2 separate regions of the Homo sapiens genome follow, and region 1 is linked to region 2. Evidence: fine-mapped expression QTL. Tissue or cell type: tibial nerve. Region 2 holds a variant in brackets; the other region holds the start of a gene. All regions are shown on one strand. Distances are between the middles of the regions.

The links. PIP is the estimated chance that this variant, and not a neighbour inherited with it, causes the effect.
Region 1: GRIN2B starts here. The variant in region 2 is fine-mapped to the expression of GRIN2B in tibial nerve (GTEx, PIP above 0.99).

What each region holds. Positions count from the first base shown.
Region 1 is chr12:13,980,322-13,982,999 of GRCh38, reverse strand. It overlaps GRIN2B (glutamate ionotropic receptor NMDA type subunit 2B), which reads left to right and starts at 1,398. Exons shown (of 14, transcript NM_000834.5): 1 at 1,398-1,658; 2 at 2,644-2,678.
Region 2 is chr12:14,112,218-14,114,895 of GRCh38, reverse strand. No RefSeq gene overlaps it. Among named protein-coding and RNA genes, the nearest start is that of GRIN2B, 130 kb to the right of the region's middle. The variant A/C (reference allele first, on the strand shown) is at 1,686.

The DNA.
Region 1 (2,678 bases), 130 kb after region 2:
TACAGGACAGCAAAAACATATCTGATGGCTTCTACAGACTAAAGTTCCAAGCCACTAGGTATATCCACTCACACAGCCTTCTCTCCTGTGCGTTTGTATGGCCGCTTCTCAGGAATGCTGGTGAGAAGCCCATGATATAACCAATATGAAAATGTTCCACCACTGTAGTATTCTAGATATTTGAAAAGACAATGGATGAGAATGAAAATGATGCATATACAATAATATTAATGTTAAAAGTAAACAATACTACAGGTGGTGATAAGGGCTATTAAAATATAAAAGAGTTCAATAGGAAGAGAAATGAATGGATGTTTGCCTTTTCAAAGAGGGTGGGTTTGTAAATGCCAGGAAATCCAGTTTCCTTTAGGGATTATTCACGGGCCTCACCATCTTCTCTTCTCAAGGCATTTAAATAACAGGATCCACTTTAATAAAAAATGTCAAACTCCTCCCGCCTTCACTAGCAGCCAGAAAAGCACGCGTATGGTCCATACTATACAATTTAGCCACGAATGACACCTGCTTTGCTTTGTTTTCTATTGTGTTAGGCGTCAGCCTCGTGTGCTCAGATAGATCTTAAGCTCCTTGAAGGCAAGAAAGAACCCGGTCCCAGACTGCGTCCGACACACAGAATGCTCGTAGGAAGCACAGGCTGATTTATGGAAAATACAGCAAGGGTCTTCAATTTCGAACTACAGCTCCGCCTTGGAGATGCTTTCCGCAGCCCGCGGGCCGCCCACGGGGGGCACTGTCTAGCTCCCCTCGCCCCTCAGCCGCTCTCCGTCGGTGCTGTTCCCCGCTGCGGCCGGGAGGAGGCGCCACGGACTCGGGCTAAGCTTCTTCCCCCTTCCGTCCCCCTTCCATCCACCTTACCACCCCACTTCCCCAGCACATGACGTGGGAAGCTGCCTCCGCCAGAGTCTTAGCAAGAGGAGTGAGGGGGTGCAGGGGCTTGGGGGTGGGGTGGGGTGGGGGGTGTGGAGAAAGAGGACACGCGCGCTCACACCCGCCCCTGGGAGCAGAAGCAGTATCTTCCCCAGCTTCGTGGGTTTCTCCTCCCCCCGGAGTCAGGGTGTGCGAGGTAGGGGGTGTGTGTGTGTCTGTGTGTGTGTGCGCGGCACGTTTTTGAGTGTGAGACCCAAATCCAGACCAGGCAACCTGCGTTCCCCGCGCCTCCCCCCGTCCCCGGTGATTAATACCCATTTTTCTGACGCTCCCCTCCTCCCCTCCTGCTCTCCCTCTCCGGCTGCCGCGCGGTTGACTTGCACAGCCTGCCCCCGCCCGCTTCCCTTCCCCCGGCTCCGATCCTCACCAACTGGAATCTGGGCTCCTGCCTCTCCACCCCCCACCTCTTTTTGAGAAAGGAAGGTTCCCCCCACCCCCTTTCAAAAACCACTTCCTCCGGCTTCTTCACCTCTAGGAAATCTCGGGGCTTCGCTCTATCGAGAGTGCTCGTCAAGGGTGATTCTTGATCACCACCATCCAGTAGTGCTGGCGTCCGAATGCATATCCTTTTGCCTTGCAAAGAAGAGTCATGAACTTCAAAACCCCCGAGACGGATCATTAATCCTGCTTTGCAGGAAAGGAAAACCCTCCATTCCCAGCCACCGGCCACCCCTCTCCGCAGACTGCAACCGCGGAGGCGCTCGGAGCCGGTACGTAAAGATGGGCTTTGGAGTCTCTCCTTTGAATGTAGGGGTTTGGGGGTGTCAGGCAGATAAAGGGTCGAAGCCGTGAAATCGTGAACGAATCTGGCATGAGGTAAAGCTCTGAAATCCAGCAGAACCCGGCACTTGCTAATTTGGACGTGGCTTTTTTAAAGGTTTTTTTTTTTTGTGGGGGAGGGGGTGCTGTGACTGGGTAGGGCTGTCTCTGGTCTTTTGGGGGGTTTCATCCCTTCACCTAGCAGAGGGGCAGGGCAGCGGCGCCCCGGGCCGGACCCACGCGCCGAGCCCATCCGTCCAATCGACACGTTGCAGGTGAAGCCCCGTGCGCTGCACCTCAGCGCGGCGGCAGCGTGAGTGTGCGCGGGGGTGAGTGTGCGCGGGGGTGAGTGTGAGTGCGCGCGGGGCGCGTGCGCGTCGGGGGCGTGTGTGCGCGCGTCAGTGTGCCCCTTCCAAGAAATGCCCAGTGTGCACCCCGTGCACAATCAGAACCCATTCAGCACAAGCCCGGGGTGGGAGGCGGCGCTGCTGCTGGAGGCGATGGGGAGAGCGAGCGAGACAAGTCAGCAGCAATGCAGATGGGGCTGGGGGCCGCACTCGCTGGCGAGTTAAGTGGGAATTGTGTTTCTGCGTGTGTGTGAGTGTGTGTTGCTGTATGGTGCCGCTTCTCCCCCCCTTCCTCCTTCCTTCCCACTTCCCTCCTTCGCTCGCTCCCTCCCTCTCTCCTCTTCCATTCAGGTTGGCTTTCCCACCTCTCATCCGTGCCTGTCCCAGGAATGGTATAGCCAGACCTTTTCTGAATTATTTATAGACCGGTACCAGCTGTTTTCAATTCCTCTCGTGTGCACTCTGTGGGAAATGCGGGGTTTCCTCCCCCCTTTCCTTAAAACGAATTGATATCTTTTTCGGAATGCATTTTTCTCACCCTCCGGGGGACACGCGAATCAAGCCCTGACCGCCTCTTTTTCCCCCTTAGGAAGGGGACGCTTTGGGAATGACCATGCTCCACCG
Region 2 (2,678 bases):
TTTGGCTTTTGTTGCTATTGCTTTTGGTGTTTTAGTCCTGAAGTCTTTGCCCATGCCTATGTCCTGAATGGTATTGCCTAGGTTTTCTTTTAGGGTTTTTATTGTTTTAGGTCTTACATTTAAGTCTTTAATCCATCTTGAGTTAATTTTTGTATACAGTGTATGGAAGGGATCCAGTTTCAGCTTTCTACATACGACTAGCCAGTTTTCCCAACACCATTTATTAAATAGGGAATCCTTTCCCCATTGCTTGTTTTTCTCAGATTTGTCAAAGATCAGATGGTTGTAGATGTGTGGTATTATTTCTGAGGCCTCTGTTCTGTTCCATTGGTCTATATCTCTGTTTTGGTACCAGTGCAATGCTGTTTTGGTACCAGTGCAATGCTATTTTGATTACTGTAGCCTTGTAGCATAGTTTGAAGTCAGGTAGCATGATGCCTCCAGCTTTGTTCTTTTTGCTTAGGATTGTCTTGGCTATACGGACTCTTTTGGTTCCATATGAACTTTAAAGTAGTTTTTTCCAATTTGGTGAAGAAAGTCATTTGTAGCTTGATGGGGATAGTATTTAATCTATAAATTACCTCGGGGAGTATGGCCATTTTCATGATATTGATTCTTCCTATCCATGAGCATGGAATGTTCTTCCATTTGTTTGTGTCTTCTTTTATTTTGCTGAGCAGTGTTTTGTAGTTCTCCTTGAAGAGGTCCTTCACATCCCTTGTAAGTTGGATTCCTAGCTATTTTATTCTCTTTGTAGTAATTGTGAATTGGAGTTCACTCATGATTTGGCTCTCTGTTTGCCTATTATTGGTGTATAGGAATGCTTGTGATTTTTGCACATTGATTTTGTATCCTGAGACTTTGCTGAAGTTGCTTATCAGCTTACGGAGATTTTGGGCTGAGCTGATGGGGTTTTCTAAATTTACAATCATGTCATCTGCAAACAGAGACAATTTGAGTTCCTCATTTCGTAATTGAATACCCTTTATTTCTTTCTCTTGCCTGATTGCCCTAGCCGGAACTTCCAACACTATGTTGAACAGGAGTGGTGAAAGAGGGCATCCTTGTCTTGTGCCGGTTTTCAAAGGGAATGCTTCCAGTTTTTGCCCATTCAGTATGATATTGGCTGTGGGTTTGTCATAATAGCTCGTATTATTTTGAGATATGTTCAATCAATACCTAGTTTATTGAGAGTTTTTAGCATGTTTTTAGTTTTTAGCATGAAGGGCTGTTGAATTTTGTCGAAGGCCTTTTCTGCATCTATTGAGATAATCATGTGGTTTTTGTCGTTGGTTCTGTTTATGTGATGGATTATGTTTATTGATTTGTGTATGTTGAACCAGTCGTGTGTCCCAGGGATGAAGCTGACTTGATTGTGGTGGATAAGCTTTTTGATGTGCTGCTGGATCTGGTTGCCAGTATTTTATTGTCAGACTCATATTCTTAAAGCAGCCTTTTCAGACTGCCCTCCCTCCCCACTTGTAGAAGTAATCTGGCCACTCATTGTTTTTCACCTTCCTCGTATTTCTGATTTCATGGAACTTCTAAGAAACATCATTTTAATTTGTCCTCTTCCTCACTCCCCCCACCCCACCCCACTCCAGCACTCTATCTCCCTTACCCCAACACTTGCCAGGGTGGAACAATAGGGTCCTTTGATATTTGGGCATTTTTAGAGCCAAGTC[A/C]TTCAGGAAGGGAACAGTGCCTTCTCTTTTTCCAAAGCAAAAGTGCTTTCTCTTTTCTAAAGCAGGGAGAACCCCTTCATTGATAGGATTGTTGATCCATAGAAGTATAAATGCTGGTGTAAACATTTCTGGCATTTGTATTTAAAAGAGTTCCTTAAGAGTGGGGCCCATATTGACTTAAAAAATATTGAGGAGAACGTCTAATAGTGGCCATCACCAACTTGATTTATTAGTAACCTTTATGAACAAATATCCATTTGAGGAAGGCTGCCCCGGCTGGTAGCCTGAAAAAGCCTGCTTTTCTCCTTGACTTGGGATTTCCTCATCTGGTTATTGTCCTTCCCTTTACCACAGGAGTTCACTAGTCCTCAAATTTAGCTGTAAAAGCTGGAATGACCACAAGCTTGGTTCTAGGCTCTTGATTCTCTTCTATTTGGATTCTCTCCTTCTGTAATCATATGTAGTTTAGTTGCGTTCTATTGCTTAATCTCAATATGCTGATGACTCCCATATGTGTACCTTTAGTCTGATATCTTTCCTGAGCTCCATACTCATATATGCAGCTTGCTACCTATCTCTTTACATATAAATATTATGTATCAATATTACATATAAATATATGCAGATTATATATGCATGTATACATGTATGTATATATGTACACATACATATGCACATGCACATATATACAATGTATATACACACATTATATATTTTATGTGTATACTTATATATAATGTGTATATATGTTATATACTATATGTTATATAATATCATAGACCCTATTGGTCTGTTCCTTGAGATGGATACATTCACGGATAGGTCATCTGACTTCCTACTCTCTGTTAGTCCCTCCCCATGTCACTTGAGTGCACACACCATGAGTGTAGCCCGTTTTTGTTTTCTTTATATCACTCTTCTCTCTCCAAGCCTCTCTTGATAATTTGCTGTCTGTCTATCGCTTGTCCCTTACATCTTCCTGCAGGGGACACG